Regions from separate parts of the Homo sapiens genome. Here region 2 is linked to region 1. Evidence: fine-mapped expression QTL. Tissue or cell type: whole blood. Region 1 holds a variant in brackets; the other region holds the start of a gene. All regions are shown on one strand. Distances are between the middles of the regions.

Region 1 (8,107 bases):
TGTTAGTTGCTGTTTAGGGAGTAAGTATATGTTCTGGGCTGCATATGACATATATATGACACATTTATTTTTTCCTAAGCTGTGTTCCAAGGTACATGAATCAAAATTTTAGTGTACATACCACACATTAATACATTTTACATGAAAAGAAATAAAAAGGATTTTTTTCTAAAATATTATTTGTTTGTAACATATTTTACTCTCTAGTTTGGTTCTGTTAGTCTTACTTTGCTTAAAAGAAGTTTTAAGGCATCTTTACCAAGCTGTATGTTTAGGTTGGAAAATTGGAACTTTTTCAAGCTTGATTCACCATTTTAAAAAATTCTCTGGTTAGAATTTGTTATCAGTGGGTGGCAGCATCTCATTCTGATAGTTCTGTATCTGAGCTGGAAGTCATATATGTTAGTATCTAGAGTTGAACAGTAGATTTTCCATTTACCTATAAAAACAACTATTCTAATAAAAATGTTTCCAGTATTGAAAACCAATGACTATTTTTGAGCATCTACTATGTTCTCCTAGATGTAGAGGGAATACAAAATATAAGTTTCAGACCTACCTTTAAGGAGCTTTTAATTTAGCTGAAGAGAGAGCTTATTAATAAAAAGTTAAGTAGCAGTTTAAGACATAAGAAGAGGAGTCTAAGGGTGGTATGTAATTAATTGCCAAAAGGATGGCCCTAGAAGTGTTTCATTATTCAGAGGAGAGAGAGAGATCAGATTAAGGTAGGCATAGAATTCTTTATTAAGGACAATATTTGGGTTCATTCTTGATGAGTGGATAAGATTTAGAAAGATAAATTCTTTGTCTTTGCCTGAGTGAGAAAATTGCCTGGAAGTAAGTATAGATACAGGAAAGTACATGTGTAAAGCTTGTTCCAGAAACAGTGAGAAAACCATTTGGATTGGAGCTTAAGGTTTGACATAGAGAAAGTCTAGAAAAATAGAATCATAGAACTAGAATTGGAAGATATTTTAAAGGTCACCTGGTCTCACCAGCCATCTGATGCTTTATTCCCCTCTGCTTCATTCCTGCCAATTTGTCATCTGGCCATCGATGAGGGAGACTCAACTCTAAATGCAGCTCATTCTATCCTTGAATAGCTCACACAATCATATTGAAACGCTATTTGTTTTGTGTACATTCTACTTGCTAGTGCTAGTTCTACTTAGAATAAATCTAATATTTCTTGCGTATGAGAGTACCTCAAGATATTAAAAGACAGCTTTCTTGTAACCTGTGAACCTTACTACCTCAGGCCAAATCTGCTCCCCCTGTGCCTATCAAGTTTCTTTATCTGTTTTACATTTGACCCTGGTTACTCTTCTGAGCAGTTTTCAGTTTGTCTGTACTCTGAGCCTTGTAGGATGACTAAAACATAGCAATATTGTGACCTCTCTCATTAGATACATTTATGTTTTGACAGTCACTCCACATTCTTCGTATGTAATTGACTCATCATGAGCTGACTGTCAATATCCCGAAGTCTTTCCCCCTCCCTGCTCTCTGCTAAACCTTGTCTTCTCCATTCTGTATTTGTACATTTGGATTTGGGGTCCAAATGTAGACCTATTTTTCCTATTACATTTCATCTTGCTAAGCACAACTAAACAGTCCAATCTCTCAGTATCTTTTTGAATCTGGATTATGTTATTTAATGTATTTGTTTTTGCTTTATGACTATGTCACCAGCCTGTTTGAAGAGTGTTATACCTGCACCATCTGAGTCAGTTATTAATATGATAAATAGGCAGGTCTGAAGAAAGAGCCTAGCAGTATACATTTGAAATCTTTCTCCATTTTCATTTTTTGGAATGTTTTCCAGCTTGTTTCAAGGATTTCTGTGAGACAGCTTGCCATATACTTTGCTGAAATAAAATACAGTCTTTCTATCTTCTGCAGTCAACGAAGAAAGTCAAAGTTACATGAGGTGATTTGTTTTAATATATGATAGGTGTAATGTGCACACCTTGACATCACTTGGTGACCAAAACATTGTACTAGGTAGACATTAAGCTCCTTGGTCTGCCCTGCAGAAGTATGTTCTTTTCCTTTTTGAAAATGGGAATTTTTGCCTGTTTTTAGTTTTTTGCTATTGATGTCATTCTCCATGATTTGGGGGATTTTGTGTTTTCTTATGGTTCTATTTGTTCTCCATTATACTCAGTGTTTTGTTTTTGGTGGTTCCTCAAGGTTTTATAATATGCATCTTTAACCTCTCATAGTCTACCTTCAAATAATAATATAGTACTCAAAATATAATGTAGCCAGGCACGGTGACTCACACCTGTAATCCAAGCACTTTGGGAATGAGATGGGAAGATTGCTTGACCCCATGAGTTCAAGACCAGCCTGGGCAACATAGTGAGACCCCCCCATCTCTAAATATATACAGTAAACAACTTTCAATAGTGTCCCCAATCTCCCTCTCCTGTGGTCTTCAGCATGCATGTCCTATGAATGTTTTGTTAGGTTTATACATAAGTATTTCATTTATTCTACTGACTGTAAAGGGTGCTGTCTTTTTAATGTTGGTGTCCATGTAGTTATGGCCAGAATATACAAATACAATTGAATATACAAATACAATTGAATTTTGTATGTTTATCTTATATCCTGTAACATTGCTGAATGCATATATTAGGTGTAGGAGTGTTTTTGGTAGATTTCTTGGACTTTTCCATGTAGATAATCATCTCATTATAAATGGGAACAATTTTATCTCTTCCTTTCTAATCTGTATGGCTTTTATTTTTCTTATTTTGTTGCAGTGACTAAAACTTCCAACTCCATGTTGAATAAGAAGTGAGATTGGATGTTCTTGCCTTCTTCCCATTTTTGGAGGAAAAGCATTCAGTCTTTGATCATTACATATAATGTTAGTTGCAGGTTTAAAAAATTTTTTTAAAATTTTTGTGGGTACATAGTAGATGTATATATTTGTGGGGTACATGAAATGTTTTGATATAGGCATGCAATTCTTAGTAATCAAATAATGGAAAATGGGGTATCTATCACCGCATACATTTATCCTTTGTGTTACAAATGATCTAATTACACTCTTCTAGTTATTTTTAAATGAGCAATTAAATTATTGACTATAGTCACCCTGTTGTGCTATCAAATACTAGGTCTTATTAATTCTAACTATTTTTTTGTACACATTAACCATCCCTACCTCCCTGCCAATCCCTTACGACCCCTCCTAGCCTCTGGTAATCA[C/T]CCTTCTACTCTATCTCTATGGGTCCAGTTGTTTTGATTTTTAGCTCCCATAAATAAGTGAGGACATGCAACGCTTGTATTTCTGTGCCTGGCTTATTTCACTTAAAATAACGACCTCCAGTTCCATCCTTGTTGCTGCAAAATGACGGAATCTCATTTTTTTTTTTGGCCAAGTAGTACTCTGTCGTATGTAAGTACCACATTTTTTTTTTCTTCATCCATTCATCTGTTGATGGATACTTAGGTTGCCTCCAAATCTTGGTTGTTTTGAACAGAGCTGCAACAAACATGGGAGTGCAGATACCTCTTCAGTATACCAATTTTCGTTCTTTTGGGTATGTGCCCAGCAGTGGAATTGCTGGATTGTATGGTAGGTCTATTTTAGCTTTGTGAGCAACCTCCATACTGTTCTCTATCATGGTTGTACTAATTTACATTCCCACCAATAGCATATGAGGGTTCCCTTTTCTCCACATCTATGCCAACATTTGTTATTGCCTGTCTTTTGGATATAAGCCATTTTAACTGGGGTGAGATGATATCTTATTGTAGTTTTGATTTGCATTTCTCTGATGATCTGTGATATTGGGCACCTTTTCATATGTCTGTTTGCCATTTGTATGTCTTCTTTTAAGAAATATCTGTTCAAATGTTTTGCCCATTTTTTGATCAGATTACTAGATTTTTTCCTGTAGAGTTGTTTGAGCTTCTTATATATTCTGGTTATTAATCCCGTTTCAGATGAGTAGTTTGAAGATATTTTCTCTCATTCTGTGGGTTGTCTCTTCACCTTGCTGATTGTATCCTATGCTTTTTAACTTGATGTGATCCCATTTGTGCATTTTTGCTTTGGTTTCCTGTCCTTGTCATATATTACTCAGGAAATGTTTGCTGAGACCAATGTCCTGGAAAGTTTCCCCAATGTTATCTTGTAGTAGTTTCATAGTTTGAGGTCTTAGATTTAAATCTTTAATCCATTTTGATTTGATTTTTGTATGCAGTTAATGATAGGGGTCTGGTTTTATTCTTCTGCATATGGATATCCAGTTTTCCTGGCACCATTTATTGAAGAGACTGTCTTTTCTCCATTGTATATTCTTGGCACCTTTGTCAAAAATGAGTTCACTGTAGGTGTGTGGATTTGTGTCTGGGTTCTCTTTTCTGTTCCATTGTTCTCTGTGTGTGTTTTTATGCCAGTACCATGCTGTTTTGATTACTGTAACTCTGCAGTATTATTTGAAGTCAGATAATATGATTTTTCCAGTTTTGTTCTTTTTGCTTAGGATAGCTTTGGCTATTCTGGGTCTTTTGTGGTTCCATATGAATTTTAAATCTTTAAAAAATTTCTATAAAGAATGTCAGTGGTGTTTTTATAGGGATTGCATTGAATCTGTAGATTGCTTGGGGTAGTGTGGACATTTTAACAATATCAGTTCTTCCAATCCATGAGCATGGAATATCTTTCCATTTTTTTTGTCCTCTTCAATTTCTTTCATCAGTGTTTTACAGTTTTCATTATAGAGATCTTTCACTTCTTTCATGAATTCCTAGGTTCTTAATATTATGTATGGCTATTGTAAATGAGATTACTTTTTGTTTGCTTGTTTGTTTTTGAGACGGAGTCTCTGTCACCCAGGCTGGAGTGCAGTGGTGTGATCTCAGCTCACTGCAACCGCTGCCTCCCAGGTTCAAGTGATTCTTCTGCCTCAGCCTCCAGAGTAGCTGGGACTACAGGCATGTGCCACCATGCCCGGCTAATTTTTTTTTTTTTTTTTTAGTAGAGATGGGGTTTCATTGTGTTAGCCAGGATGGTCTCGATCTCCTGACCTCGTGATCTGCTCGCCTCAGCCTCCCAAAGTGCTGGGATTACAGGGGTGAGCCACTGTGCCCAGCTGAGATTACTTTTTCAAAATTTCTTTTTCAGATTTTTTGCTGTTGGCCTATAGAAATGCTACTGGTATTTGTATGTTGATTGATATCCTGGAACTTTACTGAATTTATCAATTCTAATGGTTTTTGGTGGAGTCTTTAGGTGTTTCCAGATGTAAGATCATGCTTTCTGCCAACAAGGATAATTTGACTTCTTCCTTTCCAATTTGGATGCCTTTTATATCTTTCTTTTGTCTGATTGCCTGAGCTGGCACTTTCCGTACTACGTTGAATAACAGTGGTGAAAGTGAGCATCCTTATTGTGTTCTAGATCTTAGAGGAAAGGCTTTCAGTTTTTCCCCATTCGGCATGATACTAGGGTATAGAAGGTATGTTCCTTCTATACCCACTTTTTTTAGAGTTTTCATCATGAAGGGCTGTTGAATTTTATCATGCTTTTTTAGCATTAATTGATGCTAAAAAATTTTTGTCCTTCATTCTGTTGTCCTTCATTCTGTTGATGAAATGTATCACATTGATTGATTTGTATGTGTTGAACCATCCTTGTGTCCCTGTTATGATAAATGATCTTTTAATCATTTTAATCATATTGTTGAATTTACTTGGTAGTGTTTTGTTTAGGATTTTTGCATCAATATTCATCAGAGTTATTGACCTGTAGTGTTCTTTTTTTGATGTGTCTTTGTTTGGTTTTGGTGTCAAGGTAATACGGCCTCATAGAATGAGTTTGAAAGTATTCCTTCCTTCTCTATTTTTCAGAATAATTTTAGTGGGATTGGTATTCGTTCCTTTTTATATGTTTGGCAGCATTCAGCAGCAAAACCATTGGGTCCTGGGCTTTTCTTTACTTAGAGACTATTTATTATGGCTTTGATCTTGTTACTTGTTTTACTGATCTATTCAGGTTTTGGACTTCTTTTGTGGTTTAGTCTTGATAGGTTGTATGTGTCTAAGAATTTGTCCATTTCTTGTAGATTTTGCAATTTATTGGCATATAGTTGATCATAGTAGCCACTGTTGATCCTTTCAATTTCTTTGGCATCAGTTGTAGTATCCCTTTTTTCATCTCTGATTTTATTTATTTGGGTCTTTTCTTTCTTTTTCTTAGTCTGGGAAAAAACTTGTCAATTTTGTTTTATCTTTTCAAAAAATTAACTTTTTGTTTTATTAATCTTTGTATGATTTTCTTTGTTTCAATTTAATTTATGCTCTGATCTTTATTATTTCTTTTCCTTTACCAATTTTGGGTTTGGTATGCTCTTGCTTTTCTAGTTCTTTAAGAGTCATCGTTAGGTTGTTTATTTGAAGTCTTCCTTGTTTTTTGATGTAGGCACTTACAGCTATAAACTTCCCTCTTTTAGTACTGCTTTTGCAGTATCCCATAGATTTTGGTATGTCATGTTTTCATTATCATTTGTTTCAAGAAATTTTTCAATTTTCTTTTTAATTTCTTCATTGACTCACTTGTCATTCAGGAGCATATTGTTTAATTTCCATATGTTCGTATAGTTTCCAAAATTCCTTGTTATTGATTTCTAGTTTTATTCCAATGTGGTCAGAGAAGATGCTTGATATTATTTCATTTCTTAAAATGTTTTAAGACTTGTTTTGTGACCTAACGTATGGTCTGTCCTCGAGAATGATCCATGTGCTGAGGAAAAGAATGTATATTCTGTAGCTGTTGGATGAAATGTTCTGTAAATATCTATTGTTTTTGATAGTACAGATTAAGTCTGATGTTTCTTTGTTGATTTTCTGTCTAGAAGATATGTCCAATTCTGAGTGATGTCGAAGTCTCAAGCTATGATTTTATTGGGGTCTATCTCTTTCTGTAACTCTAATATTTGCTTGATATATCTGGGTGCCCCAGTGTTGGGTGCATATACATTTAAAATTGTTATATTCTCTTGCTGAATTGACCCCTTCAGCATTATATAGTGACCTTCTTTGTCTCTTCTTACAGTTTTTGTCTTGAAAACTATTTTGTCTGATACATAGTATCAGAAAATAATGATACTGATATCAGTATATCTGTCTGATATAAGTATAGCTATTCCTGCTCTTTTTTGGTTTCCATTGGCATGGAATATCTTTTCCCACCTCTTTATTTTCAGCCTGTGTGTGTCTTTATGTGTGAAGTGTGTTTTTTGCAGGCCACAGATTATTGAATTTTGTTTACCCATTCAGCCACTATATGTCTTTTGATTGGAGAATTTAGTCCATTTAGTCCAAGTAATTAGTAAGTAAGGACTTACTCCTGCCATTTTGTTATTTGTTTCTGGTTGTTTTGTGGTCTTCCTTCTTTATTTCCTTCCTGTGTTTCTTTTAGTGAAGTTGACTTTTGCTGGTGGTGTGATTTAGTTTTTTGCTTTTTATTTTTGGTGTATTCACTGTATGTTTTCTAATTTGAGGTTACCATGAAGCTTGCAAATATTACCTTACAACCCATTATTTTAAGCTAATTATGACTTAACACTGTTTGCATAAATAAACAAGCAAAAAGAAAACTAATAAAGGCTCTACTCCTTAACTTTGTCCTGCTACAACTTTTTGTTGTTACTATTTGTATCTTTTTGTACCATCTGTATCTTGAAAAGTTGTAATTATTATTTTTGATTGATTCATCATTTAGTCTTTCTACTTAAGATCAATTTACACACCACAGTTACAGTGTAATATTCTGTGTTTTTCTGTGTACTTACTATTACCAGTGAGTTTTGTACCTTCAGATGACTTCTTTTTTTTTTTTTTGGAGGCAGAATCTCGCTCTTTCACCCAGGGTGGAGTGCAGTGGCACCATCTCGGCTCACTGCAACCTCTGCCTCCTGGGTGCAAGCAATTATCCTGCCTCAGCCTCCCGAGTAGCTCACTCGCACACTGCCACGCCCAGCTAATTTTTTGTATTTTAGTAGAGACAGGGTTTCACCGTGTTGCCCAGGCTGTTCTTGAACTCCTGAACTCAGGCAATCTGCCCTCCTCGGCCTCCCAAAGTGCT
Region 2 (8,107 bases), 90 kb before region 1:
GGCCTCCCAAAGCTCTGGGATTACAGGCGTGAACCACTGCGCCTGGCTGCCCCTTGACTCTTGAAGATAAAGTCCTTGAGTTCCGTGGTGTAGTGGACAACCTCCAAAATGGCTGCTCACGACTCTCCCTTCCTGGCACTCACTTTCTTGGGAAATAGTCTCCCACACTAAGTTATAGCTGGCCTGTGCACCCAATAAAATATGGTGGAAATGATGGCGTGTGACTTCTAAGGCTAGTTTATAAAAGACATTGCAGTTTCTACCTTGGTCTCTCTCTTGGATCACTTGCTGCTGGAGCAGTCAGCCGCCGTGTCTTGAGGACACTCACACAGCACTATGGAGAGGAACACATAGGAACTGAGGCCTCCATCTATCTATTAGGCTCAACTTGCTAGCCATGAGAGCCTGCCATCTTGGAAGCAGGGCCTTTAACTTCAGTCAAGACTTCAGATGACTGTATCCCTGGCTATTTCTTTTTTAGATAGCTTTATTGAAAGTATAATTTAATTACCATACAATTCACTAATTTCAAGTATACAATTCAATGATTTCTAGTAATTTTACAGAACTGCCCAACCATGACCACAATCTAATTTTAGAATGTTTATCTCATGCCAAAAAGAAACCTCATATCCATTAGCAGTCACTCTCAGTTCCACCTTCAGCCCCAGGCAACCACTAACCTATTTTCTGTGACTGTAGATTTGTCTTTTCAGAAAATTTCATACAAATGATTTCATACAAACGAATTATGTGGTCTTTTGTGTCCAGCTTCTTTTATTTAGCATGTAGCTGACATTTTGATTGCCATCTCATGAAAGACTCTGAACCAGAACTTTCCTGCTAAGCTACTACTAAATTATTGATTCACAGAAACTGTGAGGTAATGAATCTCTACTGTTATTTTTGGCTGATAAATTTTGGGGTAATTTATTGCACAGTAATTGATAACTAGTACACATCGGTAGGTGATACTGCTGGGAAACTAAGTCCCACATTTAATGGCACACATTCAATGGGCCATTAAACCCAACCCCAAAGGTACTATTAAGAGTTGTGTTGGGATCTCAAATCAAAGCAAAAAGAAAAAAAAAAGAGTTGTGGACATGATAAATTATATCTTACAATTCGATTAGCATATTTTGTTAATGATACAAAACTGCTACTTTTTCTAATTTTTAAAAGAAAGCCCTTTCCAAAATTAGAAGAAAGAATTTCCAATTTGTTTTTAGGTCCATGAAAAAATTTGCATGAACAAGGAAGAGATGAAATTGTGGACAGTCAAAAGTGTGGTCTAGCTGCCCTGGTGGGCTACCAAGGAAACTTGCCATATTAGTCTGGAGTGAGTTTTGACTGATCAGATTGGACAATAAAAGGCTCAGCTGTAATTCCAGGAGACTTAATTAGTCATTTGCAACCTTAAGATACAGCTATCAAGAAGCCATTTAAAGGATTCATGAGGGAAGAGAACAGGTGGATACAGGCTTCAGATTTTGAGTTTGATACCGAGAGGAAGAAAGAGGCTCACAACTTCACAACTGTGTGAATGGGCCAAAACTTCATGGAATGCTGTAAAACAAGAGCCAAATGTGAAATGGTTTAAATAATGTGAATTAGTAACACTCTTGGAAACCTGAGTACAATTTGTTGTTTGATGATAGTTTTGACTTGGTTTCTAATGCAGTGAAGGTCAAAGATTAAGAGACTCATCTAGAATCTAGTAGTAACAAAAAGGAACCCTTGGATATGGCGCGGGGGAAGGGAGGAAGGGGGGGGGAGGGAAGGGGAGGGAGGGGGGAGAGAGAGAAAGAGAGAGAATGCCGCAGGTCATTAGGTATTATTTTTCATTCCTCCTGCAACTTTCTACTGAAAAGATTACCAACGACTGACAGATCTTTGCCTCCAATCTTCCCCACCCTTCCCTTTATGCTTCAAAATGCTACAAAGTCATCTTCCCAAAGCAGCTCTGATTATATAAATTTTTGCTCAGAAACATCTGATATACCCCCACTGCATGCAGAGTGAAATCTGGGCTTCTTGGAGCATTCAAGACTCTCCATAATATGTTTTGGTAGGCCAAGAGTTAGACCACTTGGATACCTTGATCTCTTGCTAAGTATTATTTACTTTCCCTACCCTATAAATCATCTGCCTCAAACATTAATCTTTGTACCTTCAACACCCCCTCTATTTTCTGTACTGTATTTGCAGCATTTCTTGTCTATCTCAGCCTGTCAAAATTAAACTCAGCGTTTATGTCAGGTTATGTCTCCATAATGCCTTATCCACGCCCTTAGTCAACATTCTTCTTCCTCTTCTGTGGTGCATAAAGACTTTTATATCTCAATCACACCACCTTTGGCGTTCTGCCTGGTTTTACAGATAGTTATGTCTTGGTGTCCCCTACTTCCTTACCCTGTGATTTAAGCATAGTATGGGTTAGAACATTTGCCATGAATTGGCCTGTGGCAGGGAGCTGATGATCCTTGTTATCAACCATTCAAAGTTTAGCAGATAGTTTGGAAAATCAGGCGATTCTGCTAATTCATGAAATTACTCATGAAAAAAAGTCGAAAGGAGTCACCCGTCTCTAAGGCGGCTTTTTGCTGTCTAGAATAACCGTGACAAAAGGTGGGAGCAAAATAATTAGCTTTCAGGGGAGTATGGCTTCTCTAAATAGTTGCAAGATGCCTACATTGTTTATGTAAAATAAAATATCTTATGTACTGCACTTTCGAAAAGACTGAAGATATCTAAGATATCTCCAGGTGGAAATTCCCGGTGACGGGTGTCCTTCTGAGGTCAACGGCACTGACCATTGCACACTGTATTCTGGAATACGTTCAACACAGCAAAACCGGCTCGTGGCGCGTCCCCGGCGTCCGACTGCTGCGTGGCCCCGAGCGACCTGCACCCCACTCGCCCCCGCCCCCACCTCCGCCCCAGTCCGCAGCGGCTACAGCCCGGGAGGCTCCAAGGGAACTCCCGCACGTCTGCGCGCGCAATCACGGGACGGCGGGTCGGCGTGGCGCGCGCAATTGCCCTGGAAACCACGGCGCGCGCACGCGCAAACGCGGGTGATGGGGGGAAGAAAGACTGAGCTGAGAGCTTTGCCGCGGGGGGAGGGCTCTACCTCGCTCCCCCGCGGTGGGCGCGCGCGCTGGCCCGCTCCCTTGCTGCACGCTCCCGGCTCGCGCGTTCCCCCCGGTGCCCTCCCCCGCCTCACAAGCACCCTTGCCCTCCCGCATTTGTGCGCCGGTGCAGCAGGCAGTGGGAACATCCGGGCATTTCCGCAGCTGAGCGGCGACCCGGGCGGCGGCGGCGGTCGAGGAGCTCCCATGGCAGGGACGAGGCGGAGGGAAGGCGAAAGGGGGGCGAGGAGTTAAGCCAGAGCCTCCGCGGGGCGGGTTTCCGAGGGAGGCACAGAGGGAAACGGCTCTCGCAGCCCGAGGAGGGTCAGGCGCGGAGCTTGTCGCACCTCCCGCGCATTCTGTCCAGCCCGGGCTCCGGAGATGCATCTGCATCAGGTCCTCACCGGAGCTGTCAACCCTGGAGACAACTGCTACTCCGTGGGCAGCGTCGGGGATGTCCCCTTCACGGTGAGCGGCGGCCGGGAGCCCTAGGGGAAGATACCAGGGGCCAGACGCGGGGGCAGGGACCTCCTGTCCAGGGCGCACGCCTCCTCAGGAGGCTGTGAGATGTTGGTGGGCCCCACCCGTGGCCCCTTTGCAGCCTTGGGGTTTAGTTCCCCCTGGGACCCGTGGGACCGTGGGTCCTGCGTCTGGTGTAGGAAATCACCCGTTAGGGGAAAGGCTTAGGAATCCACCGCACTCTCCACCCCAAGCAAACGGGCCTGAGGTGACTGGACTAGAAGGCTCCTCCTAGGGCGGCCCTTCGGTCTGCGGTGGAGGAAAGTGGTGGTGCGGCTGAAACCCCAGAGCGTCCGTTTCGCAGCTGCTCTCGGCGTGGAGGCGAAGAGACTTGGTGTTGGTCTCGGAGCGTGGAGGTGAAGAGACTTGGTGTTGGTCTCGGAGCGTGGAGGCGATGCTGCGCCTTGGCTCCCCCTGCCCGCTGTGCTAGGGCAGCGAGGAGCTGCTGGAGTCTGTGGCTTTAAGCCTGACTCTGTATCTCCTGATAATGCAGGATCTTAATTCCAACAAAAAGATAGAAAAATTCATCCTCCGCGCCCGAAAGATTTAGAATGGAAAGGTTAGAGTCACAGTGGCTTGGAGAGCTGTCTCATTTATCAGGAGGTCGTAGTTTGGTAATCCTCCTAGATAATATTTTAATCTGTAAGGTAGCCTTTTTTTTAATATAGTAAGGCAATGTGAAAAATTTACAACAGTGCTTGTTTGAGAAAAGTGTATGTATACATAACGTTTTAGAATCTCCTTAAAAGCTAGATGAAGTAGACATGTTTCTCAAGGAGATTGGACTCATCAGTCCTTTTTGAGAGTGGAAATGTTTAAACCAAGCCTTGGAGCTTCGTTTACTCATAGATAGACTCCCATAAATTGAGTTCTTTTTTAAAGAATGAAATTTATACATGGTCTTCCTTATAAGGAACTGTAGGCAGCCAGACCTTTATTAAATATATTTTGTAAACTGTTCTTCTTGATAAAACTGGAAATTCCGTAATGGTATGCTTTTTAGACAAGGAAAACCCTTTGATGTCTGCTTTCCAACAGTGTTTTTAAAACTGCGGAAAATAAAGCTTCAGCAAAACTGCAGAATCATTATGTAGCAGTGCATTCTGGAACAGAATTTATTTTTTGACGTTTTGTGATACATTAACCCCAGAAGATTGCTTTTTAGCCATTTTAATTTTTTAGTGTAATCCACTTGGCCTAGCTCCAGTTTAGAACGACCCCTTTTGTCATCTGTGTTTTATGTACATGTGACTTAAAATATTCATATAGAGCTGAGCTTTGTCTTCAAGTGTGTGGAGAATCTTGGTTTTTGGGGATAGAGAGAAGAAATTTCCCTGTTCCCCAGTAGTGCAGATAGGAAGTTCCTCAGGGTTAGAAGAGTGGGCCTCTTTCATCAAGAAACAAAGCTGGAATCTTTGGTTATATTTTCCTGCTAGAATGGTGGTGGTAGTTTTCTGCTTCCATCTAAAGTGGAGTGCTGTCTCACGGCAGGTCTGGTATGTAGAACTAAATAAACGGGTTCAGATGCAGCCTGGAAAAGCCTGTGTAAGAACTGTTAGTGCTGTGCAGGTGTGGTTATGCTGTAGGCCACTTGTGACCAGATGCTTAGAGTCATTTTCAAATCTTCTTGCACTTCCCTAATTCAGCGTTTCACGAAGTCTAGTTGACTCTGCACTGTCTACCAGATTTACTCCTTTTCATATCCTTAACCACCACCTTATTTTACAATCTTATTGGTATTAATATAAAAGCTTTCAAAACTGTCATGTCCGATAACTTCTTCATCCTCCACACCGCTGCTAGGATAATTTTCTTCAAGTGTCATTTTACTATATTACTCTTGGCTTAAGAATATGTAATTGTTTTTAATAGCTGTGTTAGGAAATGTAAACTTGTCAAGTATTCTCCATCTTTGACTTTATTTTTAATTATATGTACTCCTCACTTTGGCCCCTCTGTTACATACTGATCTTCTTACTCTAAACTGCATTTTTATGTTGCAACAAGACAGTCCTTTTGGGTTTCCAAATTCGACTCAAAATTTACGTGGTTTAGGATGCCTGCCTGTGACACTGTTATTTTGGTCTTTTGACAAATGTAAATACAAACCCATTTTGCACACCATCTCATTTAACTACCTTAGTTTTGAGCGCACTGATCCAGTTTTAATTTTGCCATGAACTAGAAATGATCTCTTGGGCTTTGTGAAAAACAGATTGAAAAACAAAACAAAACAAAACAAAAAACAAGCTGCTTTCAAGCAGTCTATATATAATCAACTAACAAATACTTAAGTTCCTATGTTTGTAAATATAGGAATAATAAATAGTAATAATAGTAAAATAAAATAAAGTAATATAATAGTAAAAATAAAAAGCAAGCTCCTCTTCATGGAGCCTGTCACTTGATTTTAGAGCAATCAGATGAAGAAACTTTAGTTCTGGATCAGATGATTAAAAGGGGGACCAGCCAGGACTTGGAATGAAGGTCTTGTGACTTCTCATTGTGTGGGCTTTTCTTGGTAGTATTTCCTTCTTAATATCAGAGTGCCTGCTCTGGAGAGGGTGTGTGGGTGCGTAGGTGGGTTAGTGGATGGATGGAAGGCCTCCCAGACATAGTGTAGAAGGAACTACTGTCTTGCAACTAACTCATGATTCTTAGCTGATGTTGTGTTTCATGGTAGCCTGAGAACCTTTTCAAAATACAATACATACTTTATTTCAGAGTCTAAAATTGATACATCTTTGAAGAACAGAATTGTTCTAAAAGGATTTTGAGTTTATGACAGTGTAATAATTGAAAGAAATGTGTGTTATATATTTTGCTGTGCATGGTGGGTGGCGTGATTGGTTGGCTGTGAATGACTACTTGATGTCGTGATGTCCCAATTTGTGCAATATTGACATGGTACTGCAGTCTGTAGTGGACAATCTCAGCTGATGTCTGTGGTTTTAGTGGTATCACGTAAGCTATGATGCTTTTCACTTGTGTTTAGGCAGTATACAGCTGTTTCCTTAAACATTCGATTGTGATTTCGTAAATGTAGCTGTAGATATCACATTTTAAAACATCACCTTTTGAACAATTTTGTTCTTTTCAGTGTAAGATCTAGGTTTTCGAAATGTTATCCTGCAATAAGTCAAATCTCTGGTAGTTCAAAGAGATGATCTTCTCCCGTGTATGAGCTTTATTATACTTTATTTTGCCTTTAAGACATTTCTTACTACCCTTCAGTGAATGTTTTGAGGGTTTATGCAACAGATATTGTAAATTTCTCATTATTTATGTTATTACTTTTCTGAAAGATAGTCCTTGGCTATTTTTTAAACTTTACTGCACATATTAAAATATTAATTGAAATAATGATCATACGTGATGATTTTTTAAATTAAAAATTCATTTGGCCTTAAGGCTTGCAGACTATTTTGAGATGTATAGGGGCAGTTACTATTATTCCAGTGTGACATGATTTCAACACATTGATCAAAGTTTACAAAAATTAGTAAGTCATTTGCACTCTTAGGGAATTTATAATATACTGGCAGAGATTAAAATGATTTATATAATTATAACATAAGGCAGATGGAAGAGATTGTAGTTGGGAAAACAAGAAGAGGTTTTATGGAAGAGTAAGGTTTGGAAAGATAAGAACAACAGAAGCAAAGGAATGGCATAATACGAAGGATAAATTATTGAGTGACTGTTTTCTTTGCAAAAGTTACTTTTTAATCACAGGACTTCTTCATTAAATAACAGACACTCTTAGAATGTTGAAAAAATATAATATGCAAACATTACCTGTAGCTTTTCAGGAAAACGTACCTGGTATTCTGACATTCAATTTTTTTTTTAAATTAAAATACCAACAAAAGGTTGGAAATAAATGGAAAACCATTCATTTAAAAATTAGAAAATAATGTTGTATAACCTCTTTTATGGCATTTAGATATGTCTTAACTCTATTGTAGAATAAAATTTCAGTCCTAGAGTTATGGTAACACCAAACCTTGAAAATGATCAACCAGTTTATACATTTAGCAAATGTTGAACACATAGGTGTGCTAAGCTTTGTGGGTATTAAAAAAAAAAAAAAAGAATTACAAGACATAGTCTTGATTTCAGGGAGTTTATTGAAGAAGTGTAGGAACCTGGTAGTCTAATACGAGAGTAAAAGACACATACCTAACCACAGTAGGCCAGCTGTGCAATATTACCAGCATTTAAGTGGGAATTCAGGAAGACTAAGAGAACTTTTGGCCAGGGGAATCAAGGGGTTGGTTAGAAACATGCTTCTGTACTGGCTGGTTATTAATGTGTTAACCTGTGCTGAGAGGAAAGTGAAAGACAGAAGTCAAGAATTTAGAATGGACTTGTTTTCTAAGAGAAATTGGCCTTTTTGTTCTTGGAGTGTAGCTTCTTGTTTGTTTAAACGGATACATTTAAAACCTTGTGGGCTT

The links. PIP is the estimated chance that this variant, and not a neighbour inherited with it, causes the effect.
Region 2: DMXL2 starts here. The variant in region 1 is fine-mapped to the expression of DMXL2 in whole blood (TOPMed, PIP 0.95).

Annotation. Positions count from the first base shown.
Region 1 is chr15:51,527,479-51,535,585 of GRCh38, reverse strand. All of the region lies in intron 13 of DMXL2 (Dmx like 2), which reads left to right. Among named protein-coding and RNA genes, the nearest start is that of DMXL2, 91 kb to the left of the region's middle. The variant C/T (reference allele first, on the strand shown) is at 3,223.
Region 2 is chr15:51,617,951-51,626,057 of GRCh38, reverse strand. It overlaps DMXL2 (Dmx like 2), which reads left to right and starts at 3,287. Exons shown (of 44, transcript NM_001378457.1): 1 at 3,287-3,599. The coding sequence starts at 3,513. LOC105370816 (a long non-coding RNA gene) reads left to right here. Exons shown (of 5, transcript XR_932236.3): 4 at 772-883; 5 at 1,233-1,374. RefSeq lists a silencer at 3,150-3,369 and an enhancer at 3,740-4,149.